3 separate regions of the Homo sapiens genome follow, and all the other regions are linked to region 1. Evidence: fine-mapped expression QTL. A gene starts in region 1. Each other region holds a variant in brackets. All regions are shown on one strand. Distances are from middle to middle. Region 1 holds the start of TMTC1 (transmembrane O-mannosyltransferase targeting cadherins 1). Region 2 overlaps TMTC1 (transmembrane O-mannosyltransferase targeting cadherins 1). Region 3 overlaps LOC105369715 (a long non-coding RNA gene).

Region 1 (4,000 bases):
TTTTTATTAAGTTAATAGGTGAATAGGAAAGGCTGTAGTGTGTTATACGGGGAAATAGACTCAGGTGTGTCTAGATATTAAAGTCGGTATATTAAGGTTACCAAGCGTGAAAGATTTTGATGGAAGAATGAAAACATCCATGTCCAGGACTTCCAGTTTCATTTCTCAGTCACTAATTTCAAGTCACCAAATAAACAAAGTGAAAATGGGTGAAACGTACTTTGAGTTACAATAAGTTTATCTTAATTCATTGACTTTTCAACTGCTCAGATGTCTTAAAATTTTTTAAAAAGTAAGTTGTTATAGTAAAGAGCCACACAAATACTCATAGCAGAGGAACAATTTCTGGATTATGTCGGTGAGCTTTTTAAGGGTTTGGGGAGGATGAGAATAAAAGGGTGACTTTTTATTTTCAGTTTTTCTATCTGGATGTGTCAAATTCCTGATAACTTCTAACACTCAGCAATGGAAATTTAGAAGGTGCCTGAAAGAACAAATAGAATTTTCAGACCTGGAGAAATTCTAGTAATCATCACTCTGGGACATATTATTAAAATTAGTATTTTAAAAAAGAAAACAATCTTTCAGAAAGACAGGAAGTTTAGGAGCCAAAGCCAGAGGCCCTAATACAAATCGCCCCCACCTCCCCATCCCCCCATCCCCACCTTCTTCCCCGCCCTGTTCAAACACGCCCACAGCCCAGGAAATAATGAGACCCAAGTGATCCAGCTAGATAGAAAAAGTAGTTTGCTTGGCATCTCCCAAATTATCTTGAGCAAACAATAAAATAAGAAATGTTTCAGAAGACAATTCGGCTCCCAGGCCCAAACCAAAACTCGAACCTGGTACTTTTTGTAAGTGCGGGCCAAGAAAGGGGCTGTAAAGTTAAAGAGCCGGTGGCGCCTCTGAACACACCCGGGCAGGGCGAGCAGGATGTCCTTGTCCAGGGAGACCCCTTCTCCTGGCTTTGAGGAAGGTGCTCCCTATCCCCGCGGGTTCCTCCGCCAAGCGGGACGCCGCGCCGGGCGGGTGAGAGAAAGCCCGGGCAGGAGAGCACAGAGCCGGCGACTGGACGCGAGCGCGGGGCGGGTGGAGAGCGTCTCTCCGGGCGCCGCTGCTGTTGTCCCGGGTGCTGAAAAGCCGGGAACTTCCCGGGAAGCAGCGGCACTTTTCTCCCTGGAAGGTGGGTGTGGGGGTTCCAGACTGCGCACCTGCTAAACCCTCCTGGGTCCCCCGGGAGGGGTCCGCCAGATGTGCCCCTTCCCAGCCCCATTCGGGGGAGAAGGATGGGGGCGGGGGCGTGGGGGTGAGCACAGCCGGACACCGCAAGTGGGAACCTGGGGTGTCCTTCCCCGCAGCTCCCGGGCAGCCGCGCGCCGCGAACCCCGGTCCACCTGCAAGCAAGGCGGGCCGGGGGCAGAGGGCGCCGGGCTGTGCGGGGGAACCGGCCCGCGTCCCGGGATTGGGGGGCGGTGGAAGAGAGAGCGAGCGGGCATGCGCAGTGGGGCGGAGGAGGTGGCGATGGCCGGGGGAGGCGGGGGGACTGCTGTTTATTTGCAGCTGGGCCAACTCCGCGGCGCAGGCGGCGGCGGAGCGCGGGGAGCTCGCGGCGGGTCCAGCTGCCGCAGCACCATGCCCGAGCCCCCCTCCGGGCAGACGCCGCGCGCCGCCGGGGCCCCGGTAGGGGAGGATGCCAGACGCCCGGGAGAGGCCAGGGCAGCAGCGGCGGCGGCGGCGCGATGGTGGTGACCACCTCTGCCCGAGGCGGCGGCGGGGACCGCACACCCTCCCGGCGGCGGGGCTGCGGGCTAGCGCCGGCCGGGGCCGCGGCGCTGCTGGCCGGGGCAAGCTGCCTGTGCTACGGCCGCTCCCTGCAGGGCGAGTTCGTGCACGACGACGTGTGGGCGATCGTGAACAACCCCGACGTGCGGCCCGGCGCCCCGCTCCGCTGGGGCATCTTCACCAACGACTTCTGGGGCAAGGGCATGGCCGAGAACACCAGCCACAAGTCCTACCGGCCGCTCTGCGTCCTCACCTTCAAGTGAGTCCCTCACCTCGCGCTAGCCGCCGCTGCCTCCTCTACCCTCCGCCCGTCCCTCGGACCGGGAGAAGTTGCGGGACTGACTTGGGGGCATTTCATTTTTGCCGCCCTTTCCCTCCACGCCTCCCTCCTCTCCAGGATGTGCATGGCACTTTGCTCCGGGATCCACTGCCCGGCTAATCTGGGCTCTCGGGGCGGTTCGGGAGGCGCCGGCTGGGGAGTTGGGATCGAGTTTCTCAACTGTCTGCCCTCTCAGCGGGCTTCTCTCTCGAGGCAGGGCTGGGAGCGGGCTGGTGAAACCGCCTCCGCACCCCTTCGCCTGCCGGATCGTGACCAAGTGGGACTAGCGCGGACCCAGAGGGTTCCGGAGGGGTGGCGGTGGTGGCGATGCTTCCAAGTAGAGAATTTCTCGGAGGCTGTTGGGCAGCTTTGCAGATGAGAAGTGTATCAGCCCCTTAAGGGTTTCGTTCAGATGAGACGAGGCGGGAGCCTTGAGCTGACAGGGCTGCGTGGGTTCAGGAGAGGGAGCAGAAAACTCTCCCGAGCCCCCCAGCCCCCGCCTTGCACCCTTGGCTGCTCCCAGAGGCTCTCCAATCTGCCAGACTTCTCTGGATCTAGACTTTAGAAGGTGCAGAGAGAGGTAACGCAGAGCCTAGGCTTCTCCAGGGACCCTGGGGCCCCAGCCGAAATAGTTTTTCTTTTACAACCTCGGAGTCATGATTCAGCGTTTCTGGTGTGAATAAGCGTAAAGGGAACCGAGAATATGCCAGGTTTTTGAGGGGTGGAGTATTTTCTTTAATTTGAAAAGAAGCCTAGCTTCTGAGGAAAGAAGAGAAGTGCTCATTTAAGGGAAATGCTATCTTACACAATCAGGAGCTTGACTCAACCCTTTATAATGTGGCTCAGCATTGAAGTTCATTTTAACGCGCCGGTCAAAACTGTTGAAATAATATTGGTGCGCTATTATCGGCGTTTTAAGCCTTTTTGCAACGGGTGTAATAGGAACCCGTGTTTATGGTAATGATTATTTGAGACTGGGTTGGCAGCTTGAAAAGCCTGCTCTGGATGAGAGGCTGAGGCCTCTTGACAGGTGTCTCTGATGACTCAGAAAAGGAAACCATAGCAATCGGCAACAATTCATGGGCTTTTGACTTACGTCTTCCACTGAAAGTTTAATGTTTTTAAGGAGAGTGAGAAAATTACATATTTGACTTTGAAGAGAATGTGTTATAGACATTTGTTCTCTTAGAAAGTTGTTCTCGTTTTCTACTGAAAGATAACCTTGGCTAACCTCGCTATTCAGTTTCCCAGATGTTTCTTAAAATCTCCTTGGGACAAATATAAATGTTTCACTTCTAGATTGACCTGCTTTTTCATTATTACAGTCAGGGTTGTTGGTTAATTTAGGATGTGCAAGTTCACAGCATGAGATGTGCTTGCTATCTTTGTAACAGCCATGGAGACCATCCTGGTCACAGGTCTGAGTATTTTTCAATTAAAAAGGGCAGAGTCAAATGCCTGTGCCTACTTGCTGGAGAGTAGGGAAGGGTGTTTTCACTTCTTGACTTTCTAGAAGGTTTTCTTCTTTTTTCTCTGTCTTTTCTCTTTTTTTCTTTTTTGGGATGGGATCTCACTCTGTCCTCCAGCCTGGAGTGCAGTGGCATGATTATTGCTCACTGTAGCCTGAAACTTCTGGGCATAAGCAATTCTCCTGCCTCAGCCTCCCAAGTAGCTGGAACTACTACTGGCACATGCCGTGCATCCAGATATATTTTAAAATTTTTTTTGTAGATATGGGGTCTTCCTATGTTGTCTAGGCTGGTGTTGAACTCCTGGGCTAAGCGATCTTTAAGCCTCAGCCTCCCAGTGTGCTGGACTTGTGGGCATGAGCTACTGTACCTCACCTAAAATGTTTTATTTTTCTTCATAATGGAGACAGCAGGCACATAAGGGAGGGGT
Region 2 (4,353 bases), 200 kb after region 1:
TGGATTCACAGCCGAATTCTACCAGAGTTACAAGGAGGAGCTGGTACCATTCCTTCTGAAACTATTCCAATCAATAGAAAAAGAGGGAATCCTCCCTAACTCATTTTATGAGGCCAGCATCATCCTGATACCAAAGCCTGGCAGAGACACAACAAAAAAAGAGAATTTTAGACCACTATCCTTGATGAACATTGATGCAAAAATCCTCAATAAAATACTGGCAAACCGAATCCAGCAGCACATCAAAAAGCTTATCCACCATGATCAAGTGGGCTTCATTCCTGGGATGCAAGGCTGGTTTAACATTCGAAAATCAATAAACGTAATCCAGCATGTAAACAGAACCAAAGACAAAAACCACATGATTATCTCAATAGATGCAGAAAAGGCCTTTGACAAAATTCAACAACCCTTCATGCTAAAAACTCTCAATAAATTAGGTATTGATGGGATGTATCTCAAAATAATAAGAGCTATCTATGACAAACCCACGCCAATATCATACTGAATGGACAAAAACTGGAAGCATTCCCTTTGAAAACTGGCACAAGACAGGGATGTCCTCTCTCACCACTCCTATTCAACATAGTGTTGGAAGTTCTGGCCAGGGCAATCAGGCAGGAGAAGGAAATAAAAGATATTCAATTAGGAAAAGAGGAAGTCAAATTGTCCCTGTTTGCAGATGACATGATTGTATATCTAGAAAACCCCATCATCTCAGCCCAAAATCTCCTTAAGCTGATAAGCAACTTCAGCAAAGTCTCAGGATACAAAATCAATGTACAAAAATCACAAGCATTCTTATACACCAATAACAGACAGAGAGCCAAATCATGAGTGAACTCCCATTCACAATTGCTTCAAAGAGAATAAAATACCTAGGAATCCAACTTACAAGGGATGTGAAGGACCTCATCAAGGAGAACTACAAACCACTGCTCAATGAAATAAAAGAGGATACAAAGAAATGGAAGAACATTCCATGCTCATGGGTAGGAAGAATCAATATCGTGAAAATGGCCATACTGCCCAAGGTAATTTATAGATTCAATGCCATCCCCATCAAGCTACCAATGACTTTCTTCACAGAATTGGAAAAAACTCCTTTAAAGTTCATATGGAACCAAAAAAGAGCCCACATTTCCAAGTCAGTCCTAAGCCAAAAGAACAAAGCTGGAGGCATCACGCTACCTGACTTCAAACTATACTACAAGCCTACAGTAACCAAAACAGCATTGTACTGGTACCAAAACAGAGATATAGACCAATGGAACAGAATGGAGCCTTCAGAAATAATGCTGCATATCTACAACTATCTGATCTTTGACAAACCTGACAAAAAGCAATGGGGAAAGGATTCCCTATTTAATAAATGGTGCTGGGAAAACTGGCTAGCCATATGTAGAAAGCTGAAACTGGATCCCTTCCTTACATCTTATACAAAAAATTAATTCAAGATGGATTAAAGACTTACATGTTAGACCTAAAACTATAAAAACCCTAGAAGAAAACCTAGGCAATACCATTCAGGACATAGGCACGGGCAAGGACTTCATGTCTAAAACACCAAAAGCCATGGCAACAAAAGCCAAAATTGACAAATGGGTTCTAATTAAACTAAAGAGCTTCTGCACAGCAAAAGAAACTACCATCAGAGTAAACAGGCAACCTACAGAATGGGAGAAAATTTTTGCAACCTACTCATCTGACAAAGGGCTAATATCCAGAATCTGCAATGAACTCAAACAAATTTACAAGAAAAAAACAAACAACCCCATCAAAAAGTGGGCAAAGGATATGAACAGGTACTTCTCAAAAGAAGACATTTATGCAGCCAAAAAACACATGAAAAAATGCTCATCATCACTGGCCATCAGAGAAATGCAAATCAAAACCACAATGAGATACCATCTCACACCAGTTAGAATGGCGATCATTAAAAAGTCAGGAAACAACAGGTGCTGGAGAGGATGTGGAGAAATAGGAACACTTTTACACTGTTGGTGGGACTGTAAACTAGTTCAACCATTGTGGAAGTCAGCGTGGCGATTCCTCAGGGATCTAGAATTAGAAATACCATTTGACCCAGCCATCCCATTACTGGGTATATACCCAAAGGATTATAAATCATGCTGCTATAAAGACACATGCACACGTATGTTTATTGTGGCACTATTCACAATAGCAAAGACTTGGAACCAACCCAAATGTCCAACAATGATAGACTGGATTAAGAAAATGTGGCACATATACACCATGGAATACTATGCAGCCATAAAAAATGATGAGTTCATGTCCTTTGTAGGGACATGGATGAAGCTGGAAACCATCATTCTCAGCAAACTATCAGAAGGACAAAAAACCAAACACCGCATGTTCTCACTCATAGCTGGGAACTGAACAATGACAACATGGACACAGGAAGGGGAACATCACACACCGGGACTGTTGTGGGGTCGGGGAAGCGGGGCGGGCTAGCATTAGGAGATATACCTAATGCTAAATGACGAGTTAATGGGTGCAGCACACCAACGTGACACATGTATACATATGTAACAAACCTGCACATTGTGCACATGTACCCTAAAACTTAAAGTATAATAATAATAAAATTT[A/T]AAAAAAAGAATAAAAGAAGAAGTAAGAAAAAATAAAATAAAATAAAAATAGATTTCAACTAAAATACATACAGCATTAATGGGTACAAACTACAAGTTTATATTCTTCTGTGTCCAAGTGGCAGGCAGAAAGTATCTCTGTTGGTGCATAGATGATGTGAGGGACCATGTAGCACCAAGCCAAAGGCTTTTAGAGACGTAATGCTGATATACAAAGTGCTACTCAGATAACATGTTAACCCTGCACCTACCGGTACAGCTAGGCATATCAATGCATCTTGTCTGTGATGAGCTCCAAGTTGTGAGGCTCAGGAGTCGGCCTGTGGGTAGATTTTCCAAAGTGTAAGGGCTTCAGCTGGCCCTGGAAACAGAGAACAGTCCTCCTTGGTGACCAGCATCCTTCCAGGACCTGACACAGAGCTTTCAGACACTCTCCCTACAAAGCTGTGGTGTGACCTGCTGCAGCATAAACTCCGAATTTAGGCGCATAGTGCCAATAGAGTCATACAATGACAGTGACATGAGGGAGCTTGGGTCAGAGGAGCCATTCAGGACCCAAGAGCTTATATGTGGGACTTCTCATGATGCCTCAGCTGCTGAAATCCAGGGCACTTTAAGCCTACAAGATGACTCTCTCATTCCCTACACTGAAGAAATAGCAAGAAATATTTCTACAAGAAATAGCAAACCTGCTAGTGCAGCACTTTAGAGAACTAACATGTTAATATTGTCCAAGGCAGGGGAGTTTCTATTTGTTTCTCTAGCACAGGACAAGCTTCATTTGAAAGTTAGTTTTGTAGGAGATAATTCTGGGGGGAAGCTATTGCACCCCCAAAGTAATCCCGTTCCTTCCACCCTGTTTTCCAGCATGGGCTACTGCATCCTTTTTGTGCATGGACTGAGCAAGCTCTGCACTTGGCTGAATCGATGTGGGGCCACCACCCTGATTGTGTCCACTGTGTTGCTGCTGTTGCTTTTCTCTTGGAAAACTGTGAAACAGAATGAAATTTGGCTGTCAAGAGAGTCCCTATTCAGGTATGACTAGACAGATAAAAATAAATATCTTCCTGTTTATTTCTTTGCTTACAAATTGTTTCCAAACAAATGAGGTAACATGGGCCTGGCAGTATTTACTAAGGAAAATTATCTTTAATAAAGTTTTAAATGGAAGATGTAATTTTATGTGGGGTTTTAACTTTAGATTTTTAAAATGATATATAAAACTTAACATGAGCTCTTTCTAAGTGAATTTATGAAAATAAGGCTCCTGGGAAAGTTTTTGAGTCTGTGAATTCAGATGGAAACAGTTTTAATGATGAGCAGGGCTGTAAAATCAGCTATAAACAAAATGAAACCAAGAAGTGCATGTGAAAAGTGAGCACACAGCCAGAGGGAAGAGAAATGCAGTATCCTTCTTTAGAATATTCCAGCATGATACGCTGTGATCTGTGACCTAGTTGCTTTATTTTGAACATTAATTTTGAACATTCTTTGAGACTGCCATTCATGATGCTGTGTTTCTGGGGCTTAGTCAGCCTCACTAAATGCCGCAGCCCTGGCGACCTTCGCCTGGCTCTCTTGGCACTGCCACACCTGACACCCAAACAATATTTGCCCAGTCTTCCAGGAATCCCCAGTCTGGGCCTCTTCCAAGCTTCTGTCCTCACTTATGACCTGATTGGTCAATTTAGTCACCATGATTTTTTTCTTGGTTTCCTGATTAGCTGGTACCCAACAC
Region 3 (4,353 bases), 180 kb before region 1:
AATGATGTGATTATTACTTATTGCAGGTCTGTATCGAAGTATTTCGTGTACCCCATAAAAATATATACCTACTATGTACCTGTAATTTTTTTTTAATTTCAGAAAAAGATTATGCAATTTCTTAATAATATGAATGACTGTTCACTGTGACAATACAGATCACCTCTGGGATAGTATCAGATTGCATTAAAACTTCCTAATGCATTTATTTTGACTATGTAATAAATAATTAAAGAAAACCAGAAGCCAAATATGGTTTTAGACTCCATCTGTAAGGAGTATCATATTAACTATTTGAACTGGATTAGCAGATGTCAGAAAGAAAATGTAGTAAACTAAAATACTGTCTTAATTGGCCAGGTAAATGTTATAGGTAACAAAGTCTAATGGTCGTTTTTCCGTATTAATAACATCTGAAATCTCTAGGCCATATGTATTGAAAAAAATAAATACAATAAAAATGGTTGAATGGCTATACAAGTACATAACACTTCAGTACGTACTCTGTCCAGTCAGCCACAGGCCCACTTTGGTCTGAAGTCAGAGAAAAGAATGCCCTGAATCGTTGATGATTCATGGTGTAGAGTAGGTCCTGAGGATATGTTATTCTTGAGTCCCTCTCCTTCACTCCTTTTGGAATAGCTCTTGATTTCTTTATCATCAGCTCAGTGTGGTCACTGCTCTGCATTCAGGCAGCAGGACACCTGTCCTTGTTCCTTGCTTCTGCATATGTGTGGCCAGTTCTGTGCCAGGAGTGTGTGAGGTGAGCTGAGAAAAAACAAGTCCCAAGCCAGGGCCACTTGAAAGTGTGTGCAAATATATGTGCTACGTTCTTTCAGGGCTGAGGAAAAGCATAAAAGCAATGCTCTGACATTGGGACCTGGATGAGAAGGCAGTTAGGAATATCCCAATTTAGCCAGGTTGCATTTACCCCACAGCTAAATGGATGCTTTGATGATGCAGTTTAGTGCATGTCCCTAGGTTTAGACTTAGGGTGGTGGCTGTCTAAATCCTGGATCTGCCCTCATAGCTGAATGACGGGTTAAATGCTTCACCTCTAGGAACCTCAGTGGCTGAAGTGAAATGTGCTTTTTAATCTCTGCCCTATGTGGTATCGAGGACAACACACTAATGACTCTCAGGACTTTTGTTAAGAGTGTTCAGTTGGCACTGGGTGGAACCAGGGATCCTGGTTCAACAAGACAAGCGGTTAAAAGTATAAATTGCTCCGGCATAAAGCAATGTGATTTCCCTCTAGAAAGCTGCATTTCCTTATCAGTTAAACAGCATGAATAGGTAAGGAATTATAATCCTCTATGACCTTTCCCTTATATCAGCAGTTATTACATTTTAGAGCCTTAAGTATCACTTGGAGTGCCTGTTACAATGCATATCCCTAGGCCCCTCAATGATATAACGGGTCTGGGGAAGGGATCTGGGGATCAGCATTCGTAAGCCTCACACATGATGCTGATGTAAGTGGGGTTGAGACTACATTCTGAGAAACACTACTAAGTAGGATTCTCCTGATCATTTTATGCTTGATAACAGACAGTGTATCAAGATGCTAAGAGCTAACGAAGGAAAAAAAAAAAAAAAACTTCTCTGTGGAAATGTGAGCCAAGGGCACAGTGGCTGGCTGACTTTCCATAATAACTCTGGTTGCCTTGGTGATGAGAGGAGGTGGTGGGGGGGAACCATGGCACTGGGAAATGTTGCAATGGCAAGATAAATTTTTCTTTCGTATAAAAATTCTGTTCTGATTGTCCACCTTTGGTTAGGTGAGAAATAATCATGCTCTTGGTCCCATGAATCCAAATGTCTATCATGAC[A/G]TAAATAAAATATTTCCCAATGTTTTGCTAGCAACCCTCTACATCCCACTCTCTGTGTTTCCCCCAGAGACTTCCAAAAGGTCACATCTCTGAAAGCTGGGTACTGGGACCAGGAACAGCTCCATCATAGATTTTATAGAAGGAGCAATTACTAGAAATTAGATTATGATCACACGGTGCAAATTTTTCCAGTAAATATTTCAGAGGGTTTCAGAGGGAATTTTGCCTTTGGTTATCAGCAGTGAATCTTCTTTCTCATGTGTTGAATGACTAAAAGCATTTGCACCATCTCAGTTCCCTGGCTCTGTCTTAAGAACAAGAAATTTAGCAAAAGCAGCTTCTTCACATTTTCTTTTGGTTATGATGACTTGTTAGTTTATCAATTTAGATAAAGTGTTTAGCTTTCTATTTAAGGCTGTTAACACATTTATTTAAAGTGACAGCACATAGCTTGTTTTGTAAAAATATTGACATTTGGGGAGAATTTAGGAAATGCCAGTAGCAGAAATAAAAGGATTTGGTCATGGGCTTGGCAGCAGCAACCCTGGCATGCTGGGAAGCCCTCTAGATTACTACATCTTGGTTGTCTTTCTTTTGTGGTAGAAGGAGGGGCTGGATCACAAAACAAAGTCGCTTTCAATCAAAAAAGATTATTGCTTTCTTTTGTCTGACAGATGAACTTATTGATTAAATTAGATATTAGTACTTTTCTAAAATACCAAATTTTGAGATTTAAATTCTAAACAGTCTGATGAAGGGTATCTTCTTAAAGCATCCGTTTTCTCTAATAACTCTACTATATAGTCTGAATGCGTTCTTCATACAGAAAGAAAAAATGGATAATAGGCTGTGTATCACATCTCTGGCCAATGCAATGGAAATATAGCATCCAGTTTATTGGCTTTTTATAGCTTTTGACCTTTTACAGAAGCCACACAGAACTGTATGGGGACAGATTCATACTATGTGGTGTTGAAGAACAATTCTGTTTTTTCAATCTGAAGATCACACTTACTATAATTACCATTAAGTGATCGATTACCTGCATGCCCTCCCACCCCCAGTGGATTACAGTATCAGATTCGGGTCACTGTAGCAACAATGGGAGGATGTGGGGTGCTCACTCTATGTTGTGTGCGTAGTCAAACTTCAGCCACCTTTAACATCTCTCCCCCCAGTTGGAAACTGAGGAATGGAAAGATGGAAAGTTCTGACCCTGTCTAGTCATAGAGAAGCAGACATGGAGATGCAGCTCACACACAGACCTCACATGTGGCCTGGAACAGAGTAGGTCCTGAGGAAACGTTAGTCCTGAGTGTCTCCCCTTCACTCCTGCTCTATTGGAATGACTCTTCATACCTTTATCATCAGCTGGGTGAGGTCACTGCTCTGCACCCAGGCAGCAGGACACCTTCCACACTGTGCCTTGCTCCTGCATATGAAGGGCCAGTTCTCTGCTGCTGTGAGTGTCTGGAGGTGGGCTGGAGGAAGATTAGTCCCAAGCCAACGTCACTCCAAAATGCACACAAATATATATGTTAAATGCTTTTGGGATTGAGGGAAGCATAAAAACAATGCTCCCAGGTTGGGACCCAAAAGGGAAGGCAGCTAAGAATATACTGATTTAGCCAGGATTCATTTACCTCATAGCTAAAGGGATACTTTGATGATTCAGTTTCATGCATGTCCCTGGGTTTAAGCTCAGGCGGATGGCTAAATCCGGCCTCTGCCCTCACCAGCTGAATGATGGGTTAGATGCTTCACCTCTAGAAGCCTCAGTGGCCAAAGTGAAATGTGCTGATGAATCTCTACCTCTCTAGGTTCTTGTAAGGGTGGAATAAAAGAACATGAGCAGTGTGCCTAGCAGAGTGTCTGGCACATAGAAGGAGGCAATAAATGTTAGTTCCACTTGTTCCTTCCCATGCTCACTTAAAATTTCCACCAGAAGCTCTGTGAGCTGATTTTCCACTAGGAAGAGGATATCACAACGAAAACAGACACTGTCAAAAGCACATGTTGCCCCTGAAGAGAAATGAGATGGATCTTTCCATTTTTCTTGTTGCTGTGCTGGTAATAAAAATAACTAACTAATGTGTATTGCAGCCTAACTATGCTTCTGGCACTGTGCCAACCATTTTACATACAGCCTTTTAAAATACATTTCTAGGATAGAGGAATTATTATTGTTATTTCTTATTTTATTTATTATTATTATTACTCTTTGTCTACTTTCTTTGGGCTTGATTTGCTGTATCTTTTTTATTTTCTTGAAACGGAATTTCAAATCACCAATTTAGTCTTTTGTCTTTTCTAACATGCATTTAATACTAAAATTTCACTCTAAGCACTTCTTTAGCTACACTTTAACAATTTTAGTATGTTGCATCTTCATTTTCACTTCCTTTAAAGTATTTTCTAATTTCCAACATGATTCTTACTTGAACTAATGATGAAATGTAGACATGTGCTTTTAACTTCCAATCAGTTGGAGATTTTCTAATTATTATTCTGTTAATAATAT

The links. PIP is the estimated chance that this variant, and not a neighbour inherited with it, causes the effect. A credible set is the group of variants that fine-mapping cannot tell apart.
Region 2: its variant is the best candidate, but not a certain one, in a credible set for the expression of TMTC1 in whole blood (INTERVAL, PIP 0.63).
Region 3: its variant is the best candidate, but not a certain one, in a credible set for the expression of TMTC1 in tibial artery (GTEx, PIP 0.78).

What each region holds. Positions count from the first base shown.
Region 1 is chr12:29,781,491-29,785,490 of GRCh38, reverse strand. It overlaps TMTC1 (transmembrane O-mannosyltransferase targeting cadherins 1), which reads left to right and starts at 1,549. Exons shown (of 18, transcript NM_001193451.2): 1 at 1,549-2,041. The coding sequence starts at 1,740.
Region 2 is chr12:29,582,704-29,587,056 of GRCh38, reverse strand. It overlaps TMTC1 (transmembrane O-mannosyltransferase targeting cadherins 1), which reads left to right. Exons shown (of 18, transcript NM_001193451.2): 8 at 3,483-3,650. Among named protein-coding and RNA genes, the nearest start is that of OVCH1, 87 kb to the right of the region's middle. The variant A/T (reference allele first, on the strand shown) is at 2,616.
Region 3 is chr12:29,957,630-29,961,982 of GRCh38, reverse strand. The region is part of intron 3 of LOC105369715 (a long non-coding RNA gene); the gene reads left to right. Among named protein-coding and RNA genes, the nearest start is that of TMTC1, 180 kb to the right of the region's middle. The variant A/G (reference allele first, on the strand shown) is at 1,833.